Linked DNA regions of Homo sapiens. The protein of the gene in region 2 purifies or fractionates together with the protein of the main gene of each other region. This does not show direct contact. Each region holds a gene or a part of one and is shown on either strand. Other genes may lie near its edges.

Region 1 (3,649 bases), on a different chromosome or scaffold from region 2:
TATGTGCCTGGAGATGCTCATTATTGACTATGTGCAACAATAAAGACATAGTTAAATAAAGCAGGGGTCAGCCAACCAAGTATAAACAGAGAAGTCATGACAAAATGTTAAGTGAAAAATGCAGGCTATAAACCTATATGTGGACTAATTTCAACTATTACAAAATACAGATTTACAGAAAACATAGAATAGGGCATATAAAATGATGGTTCATCTTACGTTTGTTCTCTAGCATGGAGTATGGTTATTTTCACAACTGTAATTTATAATTTATACCAGACAACATCTTTAGGCAGATGATGAAATACACACATTGTTAGTTTTGCAAGAATCTTCAGAATTGATTCCAGATGCCCATATGCTGCCACCATTGAGGCCCACAAATCCCTCCCGAAAGGCTTGCAGAGGAATGGGAGGCGAGGGGCTGTTTCATGTCGACTCTTCAGAAAGACACTTCAGGACTTGGTGTGTCTCTCTAATGACTCCAACCAACTACCTCACCACAAAAAAGGAGGGCAATTTAGGGTCTTTATTTTGCTACTGGACTAACCAGGAAATTTGGCTGTGAACAGTTTATCCCTTACATTAGCCCAAAGTTAGGAATTCCCATGATGCTTGTTCCCTTACAAATCTGCAAACAGTGGATCTCCCGCATCTGGTGTGAGGGGATCCCCTCCCCATCCAACATGCTACACCCCAGGTATAGAAACTTGAGTCACGCTTGCTTCAATGGGGACAAAGGAAGGAGGGTGGCTTCTGTTCCATGTGCTGCAGCACAGTGGGAAAAGCTTTTCTCAGTCTAAGAGTTTGGAAATTACTGAGTTTTGCCAGACACCGGTGGCCATGATGCTCGTTCCACATCTCACCAGATGCAGAAAAGATGGAGATGATGTTAAAGAATGGGGGGAATCTATTTTTTTTTTTTTTTCTTTGAGACGGAGTCTCGCTCTTTCGCCCAGGCTGTACTGCAGTGGCTCTATCTCGGCTCACTGCAAGCTCCGCCTCCTGGGTTCATGCCATTCTCCTGCCTCAGCCTCCTGAGTAGCTGGGACTACAGGCGCCTGCCACGGCGCCTGGCTAATTTTTTGTATTTTTAGTAGACACGGGATTTCACCATGTTAGCCAGGATAGTCTCGATCTCCTGACCTCATGATCCGCCCACCTCGGCCTCTCAAAGTGCTGGGATTACAGGCGTGAGCCACCGCACCCGGCCTAGAATAGGGGGAATCTTATTTTCCACAATCCCCTAAGATAAGGAAGAGCCTTTTGGTGATAACACTGCTTAAAAGAGAAAAGAGTTTCTAGTTTTTGTTTTTCTTTTTTCCCCTTGAGATGACCTGAGTTTCTACCTTCTACATATGACAGGTGACAGACCTGTGGCTGCAGATGGAATCTGGACTGGGGGTCCAGAGATCCTGTGATTCTAAGACTGAGCCTGCATGTCACCTAGCCCCTCACATGGTCCAGCCAGTTTTCCCATCTCCACCTGTAGATCCATTTCAACAACTGATTAGGTGCCCGAAGCATTTATATGTCTATAAATAATTTCTCCCTCCCCACTGCCTTCTCTTTTTGGGAATCTGTCAGTTTACTGGAGATGATAGCATCTTGTCCTGCAAATATGGGTCTTTGTGTTAGAGATGAGTTTCCTTAAAACCTCTATGAAGGAAATGGTTGAGAGTGCAAGAGAAAATTTGAAATGAAGCCAGAAGGATGTATATTTGTGCGGGGAGGAGGATGAAGAAAGACCAAAAATGTTATTTTCATTGTTTTACAGTCATTTCAGGTACGTTTTACTATTTCGTCTTAGTCAACAGCAGTGTTTATAATATAAAGCCATACTGAATAAAATATGCAGACTTCACTTAAATTTTCATACTTGAGTGACAACACAGCATTCAAGTTATCTGAGCTTTATTATTTTGATCATAGTACAGATTACTATACCCTTACTATGGTATAATATCTTTATTTATTGGTTCATATAAGTCTAAGATATGCAGTCTCACACATAAATGGTCATTTCCAACATTCATTCATTCATTCATTCATTCACTCATTCAACAATGATTTACTGTGAAGGGCCAGGCTTGGTTTGCTAGGCACAAAGAATATAAGGTGAATAGGATATGTGTTCTCTTAGATTCATTAACATCATGCAGCTTCTCATTCTTCAGGTCTATAGGCCCTTACATGATTGGCTCTGCCCACTCTCTCACCTTTTTCCTTATCACTTTCCCCCTTTGTCTGTCTCTTACAGGTACACTTCAGGTTCCTTGAAGACACCAAGCTATTGTTACCCCAGGGCCTCTGCACCTGTGGTCTCCTCTTTTTAGAATGCTGTTCCCCAGGTCTCCTCTTCACTCAGGTCTTTGTTCAAATATCACCTCCTCAAAGACAATTCTATTTAAAGGCAGATCTCTTTCTCCATTCTTCCTCCCAGTCATCCCTCTTCCTACTTAATTTTTCTCCAAAGCACTGCTCACCACCTGAACAATTTTATCTTCTGTCTCCCCTGGTAGAGCTTGGGCAGGAAGTTCGTCTTTTTAGCAACGTATCCCTAGGGGCTAGAACAACCTGGCATGTAACAGATGTTTATATGTATTCAGAGAATAAATGAATGAATGAACTGGTTCTTGATAGTTTAGGGTGCTTGATGAACCAGCTTTTCAGGAGGGCTCATTATGGTCCCTGGTAGATTCATAGTCCCTACTCCTAAGCCTCCCACTCCTCCTCCTATTGGGCTGTGTCTGTGAATGACATCCTTGGCCATTCAGCCTCAAAGCCTTGCCATCACTTATTCTTCCCTCCTGTTAGTGCCTACATCCAATCAGTTACCAATTTTAGTGACACTGTGGCCTCTTGCATCAACTCCTTTTTCTAACCATTCTTACAACCACCCCCAGTCCATACTCTCTTTATCTCTCACCTAAACCATTGTCATCATTTCCTACCTGGGCTTCTGGCCAGCAGGCTCTCCACATCCAATCTGTTCTCCAAGGGGTAGCCAGAGTGAGTTTCATCATGTTACGGTTTGATTATGTTTCTCCCCCACTCAAAAACTAAAGACTCCCAACTCCTTAGCTTGGCAGTCAATGTCCCCCCAATAACCTCCATCCCCTTACCCAACCTTCCTTCTCAAGTCCCTTCTTTTATTCTTTTTGCTCCAGTTGGAATGAACTGCTTTCCAGTTTCTGTATATATCCTAGAAGTCCCCATGCCTGTCCATCCTCTGCTCATGCTATTTCCACTCCTCGAAATAGTTTTCTTCCTTTCTTCTAACGTACAAATCATTCACCCAGTTTAAATGCTACTTGGCTTCTCCAAGAAGCCGTTACTGACCTGTGAGGAGAATAAAAGTCCTCTTTCAACTGTTTTTAAGGGGTTATCCGCCTCTCTTTTAGGGCAAGTCTAGGGAAAGGACAGGCAATACGACACAGAACAAAGAGTTCAGAATCTGGAGTCAGATCATCTGAGCTGGAGGCCTAGCTCTCTGGATCTGAGACTTTTGAGGTATGCACCCTTAGATAAGTGAAAATCCAAGCCTTAATTTCCCTATCTGCAAAATGAGGATGATAACACTATTGTCACGGATGTCTTATGAGGAGTAAGTGACAGAGTATAGGAAGAGCTTTTGACACTACATACA
Region 2 (3,749 bases):
ATGTGCTGTAAATGTAAAAGACACCAGATTTTGAATAGTTAATACAATTTAAAAAGGATATAAAATATCTCATTTATAGTTTTAAAATACTGACTATATGTTGAAATGATATTTTGGATATATTGAGTTAAATAAAAATATTATCAACAATTAACTTGTTTCTACTTTTTAAATGTGGCTGCACATGTGGCTGGCATTATATTTCATTTGGACAATGCTGGTCTATACCATTAGCTAATGAAGGTAGGAACAATCTCTACCCACTGCTGTGTCCCTAGTCTCTATCATATACTAGATGCTCAGTAAGTATTTACTGAATAATTTGGTATTTATGAGAACTCTGGGCTTTTATGAGAGCTGAGACGGGCAGCCCCATGTATGCTATGAACTTGAGGGAGGAAGAAACAGTTTTATTTTTCTCCAATCACTGTATTTCAAAGGGCTCTGTGGATTCTCTCTGTCCTGCTCTCTATCCACAATCCCCAGTCACCTACTACTATAGATTGAGGGGTGGGGGTGATGGCTGAAGGAACAAAGCTGGTGCAGCTGCTTCTATTTCAGTCCTATAGGAAGTGTCTTGATTATTTTACATTCTCCAGCTTTGGTCCTAGAAGCCAGGAAGGGCTCACCTCAACATCCTCAGAAACACAGATAGGGTTAGCTGGGGGTCACGGGGACTTTCCCAGGGTCATCTAGCAGGTCAGAGGTGAACAGGGCCTCAAACCTTGGTCTCCAGACCCCTTCCAGGACCCTGACCTCTAGCTATTAATACATCCTGATGTAGTCTCCTTCAGACTGGAACCCTCCCTCAAACCCCTCTCCCAACATTCACCTGTAATTTCTTGGGGCACCTAATGGCAGTTGTGCCTGGTCCCAGCAGAGCTTCCCTGGATGGCACCATCCCTCCTAGGGGCCGAAATGGATGGAAGGAAGGAGTGAGAGGATGGATGAATGGATGGGAAGATGGACGAGTGAATGAGTGAACAGGAGGGTGGGAGAATGGATGGGAAAGGAGGAAGGCTGGTTGGTAGGGTGTCTCTGCACGGGTGGAGAGGATGTATCGGAAGGAATTACCCACTTATCCCGTTCCAAGCAGACTCTGAAGAGCAGAGAGCCCTCGGCGATCAAAGTCCAGCCCCGTCACGTTTCTGCTAGAAGCCGAGGCGGGAGAAGTTGGGTGCTTTCCCCCGGGGCCCGCAGGGACGTCCAGGCAGAGCCGGAAGGGGGACGGGAGTTTGTGGGCCGGCCGGGGGGCTCTAGGCGACATCCCCCCATCCGCCCGCGCCTGCCGGTGCCAGGGTGGGGTAAGGCCCCCGCCCCCACCTCCGGAGGTGGCGGCCCCACGCGGCCCCAACAAACTGCCGTTGTCCCGCGGGCCGTGGGCCCGGCACACTGGGGCTTTGTCCGGCCCCCCGCCGCGACCCGAGGCGGGGGCCCCACATGACCGAAGGGGTAGGAGGAGCCTGCGGCGGCGGCGGTGGCAGCGGCGGCTCCACCACCATTTCCCTCCCGGGCCGGGGGTCGGCGGGCGGTGGCGGTGGCTGGGCAGGGCTGGGCAGGGCCGCGGACGCCAGGCCCCCCGTTCCCCGCCAGGCTGCAGGCGTCGGGCCTGGGCCGTCAGGGCAGCTGTGACCGGATCGCTTCCCGGGCGGCGAGCTGGGGGTGCACCCGGACCGCCGCCCCCGGGATCATGGGCAATGGCATGACCAAGGTAGGGGGCGGGCCCCGCGCAGCCTCCCCGGTCCCCGCCCCGGCCGCCGCGGCCCGGCGCTGACCAGCTCGGTCCGCCCGCCTCTGACCTTCTGTTCTCGCCGGTCTCCGTGCGGCGGCATCTCCGTGTCCCTGTGACTCGAGACCGCGGCTGTCGGGTCTCCCCCTCTCTGACCCTGCGTCTCTGTCCCCGCTGTGTCCGCCCTCTCTCCGTGACTCTGTGTGTCTCTCGCTGTCTTGCTGTGGCTGTCACTCCCAGGCTGTCTCCCAGTGAGTCCTGCTCTCCGTCTGCATGTGTCCCTCTCCCTTGTCGCTGACTCCTCGGCTCTCTCCGGGGCTGTTTCTCCATCCTGTCCCGCCTCTGCCTGTCATTGCCTTTCTGCCTCCCCAGCCCCAGAATTTCCATCCCTGCACCCTGCAAGTCTACCTCTCTCCTCTCCTCTCCTCCTAAGACCTGCCTTCCTCCTCTCCCCTCTCATACCCAAGCTGGCCTCCCTTGGTTCCCTCGGTTGGTTAACTGGCCCCCTAGCCTACCCTCCCCAGAGCCCCAGACCCCTCTCACAGAGGACTCAGGGCCCACAAAAGGGAAGAGAGTGCTCCCTGAGCCCTGAGGTCCATACCCTTCATGGGACAGAGAGGGGCTGTGGGCCCCCCAGCTGCCCTGGGGGTGGAAGGGGGTGCAGCCCCTGCCCCACTGACCCTTGCCTGTCCTTCCTCTAGGTACTTCCTGGACTCTACCTCGGAAACTTCATTGGTGAGCACTGCCCACTCTGTCCCGAGGCCATGGCACTCTGCCTGTCTCAGGCCTGTGTCCACCATTCATGCCCTGGCCCATGCATCTCAGGAATGGGGTTGGGGGCAGGGAAGCGGCCCCAGGCTGGGAGGGGGAAAAGGCTGATGGAGGACAAGGGGTGCACATGCAGGCGAGTGTCCCCAGGCTTGAAGGGACATGGAGGGAGCATGGGGGCCTGACACTGACATCCCTCCCCGCCATTCAGCCTTCCCCAGTGTTCTACCACCAGACCAAAGGGCCAGAGCAAAGGGCTCGGGGCCTGGGCTGTGGACCTGAGCAAGTCTACACCTGCGCTAAGCCTCAGCCTCCTCCTCAGCACAAAAGGTCCACCAGCTGCTGAGCACTCTTCTGGCCCTGAGGTTCTGGGTTGAGGTCTGTTTGCGGGTGCTGCTTCTAGCGGGGAAGCTGGGAACTCTTCCCCCCATAACTTCCTCCTTGTCAGAGGAGAGGTCCCTGGAGATGGGCTGGGCCTTCTTGTGAGCAGGGTCATGAGCACCAACACTGTCGCACCCCAGAGCCCTGGAGCAGCTGGGCAGCCTAGAGCTGGAAGTTGGGGGGGCGGTGAGCCGGCAAGCTTTGCATTCCCCACTCTCTCATCCATTCCTTCCACAATCTTCAGTCAGGAGGAGGGGACACCCATGTATAGATACCTTGTTCTTCAGGGGCTTCCAGGCTGGTGGCAGGCAGGCAGAGCTGAACATAGACCTTGGGTAGAAAACATGCTGGGTAGAAACCATGCTAAGGGGGCTGGGCGCAGTGGCTCACGCCTTTAATCCCAGCACTTTGGGAGGCGGAGGCGGGCAGACCACCTGAGGTCAGGAGTTCGAGACCAGCCTGGCCAACATAGTGAAACCCCGTCTCTACTAAAAATACAAAAATCAGCCAGGCACGATGGCAGGCGCCTGTAATCCCAGCTACTTGGGAGGCTGAGGCAGGAGAATCACTTGAACCCGGGAGGCGGGGGTTGCAGTCAGCCGAGATCGTGCCACTGCACTCCAGTCTGGGCAACAGAGCGAGACTCTGTCTCAAAAAAAAAAAAAAAAAAAAAGAGAAAGAAAAAAGAAAAGAAAACATGCTAAGGGGCAGACTGATCCAGGGCTTGGGTGACTCAAAGTGGGAAAATCATTTCCATCTGCAGAGTCAGAAAAAGCTTTAGAGAGGGAGGGGCTCAGGTGCTTCACCCTTGTAAATCCTGGTCCCTTCCTTCCTGGGAGCTCCCTCAGCCGCTCATGCCACCTTGATTTCT
Region 3 (3,649 bases), on a different chromosome or scaffold from region 2:
CACTTATCTTGGGAACTCTTCTGGACAAAATATCTACATCTGCGTAGTTTTCTCATTAGAGCATCAAATCCTTTAGGGCAAGTGAATGTTCATCTAACTCTAATGAAAACCTTTTCCCCTAAGGATTAAAAGATTTGGAGTCAATGACAAGGAATTCTGAAATAGTTTATCCGCTACCGTTTGCTTAAACAAACAAAAAGCTAAAAGGAAAAAGAAGATGAGCCAAAGGATCTCCTACGCAAGAAAAAGAAACTAGCATTTTCCTTTCATCCTCTTTCCATTTTCCCCCTACCTATGTATTAGTATGCCACAAATCTAAGTAGCTTCAATATTCTCTTATTTGAAGTTTTTCTTTTCAGCACTTGGAAGAGTGACAAAACATAAGAAAGGAATTGGGAACCTGAAGATGTTTTCAACACCAACTACCTTGGCAATCAACTGCAGTATTTCATCGCAGTGGTCACTGACGTCTAGAATCACTACCCTGATGGTTTCAACTTCCTACCTTAAATAAAGACTCAATTATATTAACCAAGGGGTGCTCTAAGGCAAGAAAGCAGACCGATGAATTTGAGAAAGATCATTACTAGTAAAGAACAAAACGAGAATTTTCTGACTAAGCCTCAGTTAACCAGCAAGCTCATTTAACCCTGACAGCTGCCTTGTTCCTCCCTCACAAGTCTTTTGGTTAACCAGGGTATTCAAGAAAGCCCTGAACTAAACTAAACTTTCTGCTCACTATCAGCAAAAGCTCCCAGCCAATAGTCAAAAACAGCCCGCAGCACACGAACTCCTGAAACTTTTAAGCGTGTACCTTTAAAAGACATATTCCCTCGCAAAAATACCCACAGATACCCAAAGATCACCAAATCCATGCTGCCCTGAGTACCTGGCAAAGAACAGCTTCTCCCCCGCGAGTTCCAAAAGGCACATGCACAATCATCCTGTCCTTGTCCTCATTCTCCAGGTGGCCCTGGAGCCTGCCGGGGCTGAGCCGGACGGGGCCTTCCTGGTACCTGCAGCCACTGCTCAAGACGCTGAGCTTCACCTCGCTCTGGTCAGCCTTGGAGAAAACCAAGTTCTGGACTGTCTTGTGCAGTGCACCCTTGCTTGTCACCTGAAAGCCACCAAAGGTGAAGGATGAAGACAGGCCCAACACCTTCCCTCCCTGAGAAAGATAGGCCATGAACTTCTGGTACAGGTCTTCGGGAATGGACTCCCTGGTAGCAATGACCAACAGCAGACAGTTGTCCGTCCACGGGTCTCTGAGAGCACTGTCCTCCAGCAGGTGGTAGAGAATATAACTGTCAATGTCCACACAGTCGGCCAGCACAGACCGGACCTCGTGGAACCGGCCGAGGGCTTCCTGGGAGTCGGAGCCCACATAGAGGAGGATGTTGGGTGCCTTTCCCGTGAGGTTGACTCTCCTCCCTTCTCTTTCGGGGGAGGTCTCATCAGCAACACTCTCCAAACTGCTGCTATAATCGTAGGGAAGGTCTGGAATGTTCTCGGCAGACGCAAACTTGACTGACTCAATGGTGCTGTTCTCAAGTTCCAGACACTCGTGGCAACTAGACAGATGGAGGTGATAATGCTCAACGGGGCCCCCTCCCCTGTCACTGTCCCCAGCAGGCTCACTCCCAGAGGCACTGCCTCTCCTTTGTTTGGGTTCTTCACCAAGAGCCTTTGGGTCATCTCTGCCAACATGCTCCATACCGTCCTGCTCAGGCTTAATCTCAAGAGAAGGTTCAGGCTTCGGCTCTAGGATCTGGGCTTGCTTGTTTGAGACCTGATCCTTAACTTCCTTCAGAGTGGAGTCCTGCAAGTGCACCGCTAAGGCATGAATAGGAGAGAGAGACAGAAAATTAATCAACACTTCTTGTATGACACATAGCTCATCTCAAGAATCTCATCACCCTCTCTGCATTCTGGGACTTACATTCCAGGACAGCCTCTGGCACGGCTCCCACCTGCATCCCCCCTCAACTCGGGGGCATCCTTTGGAAACACTAATTGTTCCCACCTGAAGACCCCAAGTGAAATCAGCAGTTTGCCCAACATCTTTTATACCTATTGGAGAACCTAAGACCCTCTTACGGAATGGTGAAGAAAGTGAGATTCAGAGAGGTGCCTTTGCCTCCTTACTTACAGATTCTATTTCTTGGGTGTTATTCTCCTTCACAATAATGAAACTGAGCAATAAAAAGGACACATATCTAGAGTCTACCCCAGCACGCCCCAGTGAAATGTCACTCTCAAGACATGCCATAGGATCAATGGGAGAAGATTCTTCCCAGTATCTTGTCTCAGGACTGGAACATAAGTTGACAATCACTAATTCAAAAACATTTATTGAGCACTTGCTACATGTCGGACATGGTATTAGAGACATGTACGAGGTGATTCTGGATATTAAGGGATTTACATAAACTTCCAAAGCTGATAAGGGACATTTATTTGCCCATCAGATGAAAGAAGACATTCATAGACATAAAAAGCCTGCTTTTAAGTCTAATTAAGGAAGAACAGTTTGTGTGTTTCCTGAAAAACGATTTGTCCCAAGAAATTGTGATACATATATTTTAAGTAAAAAGCGGTTTGATTTAGAACTTCATAGTAACACTAGCTATGCTTCCCACTCAATCAGAACTGTAGTCTAGACACTAGTTATACTGTATTAAACTATGTGAAATAAATATTATATGGGTTCTGAATTTGAATGCCACCTCATGAGCAATGCAGTCATGAAAACTTCTTGTTTAAGAAATTTAATAAGCACTGAAAATGTACCCTGCAGCCCCCCAAAAAAATCTTGACACATGCATGAATTGTATATTATTACAGTAAAATCAAACCTGTGGACTGAATTAAACTGAAACCAAGCATAGCCTTTATGTCATACCAGTAAGAGTGCTCAACAGTCCTTAAGCTAATAACTTATAGTGTCCCACTATGATAAAAACAGGGTCTCACTTTGTCACCCACATGGGAATGCAGTGGCGTGATCATGGCTCACTGTGGCCTCAACCTCCCAGCTCAAGTGATCCTCCCATCTCAGCCTCCCAAGTAGCCGGGACCACAGGCATGCACCACCACACCCAGCTAATTTTTTTGTTTGTTTGTTTTTTTGGAGATAGGGGTCTATGCTGCTCAGGCTGGTCTCGAACTCCTGGGCTCCAAGCGATCCTCCTGCCTCGGCCTTCCAAAGTGCTGGGATTACAGGCATGAGCCACTATGCCTGGCCAATAAAAACATTTTCTAAAGTTACTTACACACAATCTTTTGGGGTACCAGTCCATTATCCATGTGGAGTCTATCTTCCATGAACGCCACCCCCAGCTTGCTGAAGTTGTCCACACTTGCTTCAGCAATTAGCCGATAAGGATCCCCAGGTCTGCAAGCTAATGGCAAACAACAGTCTGACCACTTGACAATCTGAGAAAAAGCAGGAGAGGGAGGAGGTGGGAAAAGACAGGTTGAGATTTTTCTTCTCTAAAATAACCACATACTTTATTTTTCCCTTGAGGCTCCTACCACTAAATTACAGTCATTAATAACAAATTACTGGATATTACATTTTACTAATATCAGAGTTGTTTTGAATTCAGCATTCTCATCTCTACCTGACAACAGTGCTTACGAAACACTA

The links.
Region 1: the proteins of DUSP15 (region 2) and PTPN5 purify together in Homo sapiens (affinity purification with mass spectrometry; one large-scale study listed by BioGRID and IntAct). This does not show direct contact.
Region 3: the proteins of DUSP15 (region 2) and HLCS purify together in Homo sapiens (affinity purification with mass spectrometry; one large-scale study listed by BioGRID and IntAct). This does not show direct contact.

The regions. Positions count from the first base shown.
Region 1 is NC_000011.10:18,785,289-18,788,937, forward strand, and holds part of PTPN5 (tyrosine-protein phosphatase non-receptor type 5), read right to left. Parts: intron 1-3,649. UniProt on the Homo sapiens protein: May regulate the activity of several effector molecules involved in synaptic plasticity and neuronal cell survival, including MAPKs, Src family kinases and NMDA receptors.
Region 2 is NC_000020.11:31,868,279-31,872,027, reverse strand, and holds the start of DUSP15 (dual specificity protein phosphatase 15), read left to right. Parts: upstream 1-1,500; 5' UTR 1,501-1,690; coding exon 1,691-1,711; intron 1,712-1,796; exon of another isoform or gene 1,797-2,218; intron 2,219-2,238; exon of another isoform or gene 2,239-2,322; intron 2,323-2,430; coding exon 2,431-2,464; intron 2,465-2,627; exon of another isoform or gene 2,628-2,875; intron 2,876-3,749. Other genes in the region: probable tubulin polyglutamylase TTLL9, read right to left, coding at 833-901. UniProt on the Homo sapiens protein: May dephosphorylate MAPK13, ATF2, ERBB3, PDGFRB and SNX6.
Region 3 is NC_000021.9:36,935,560-36,939,208, forward strand, and holds part of HLCS (biotin--protein ligase), read right to left. Parts: intron 3,436-3,649; coding exon 3,273-3,435; intron 1,834-3,272; coding exon 890-1,833; intron 1-889. UniProt on the Homo sapiens protein: Biotin--protein ligase catalyzing the biotinylation of the 4 biotin-dependent carboxylases acetyl-CoA-carboxylase, pyruvate carboxylase, propionyl-CoA carboxylase, and methylcrotonyl-CoA carboxylase.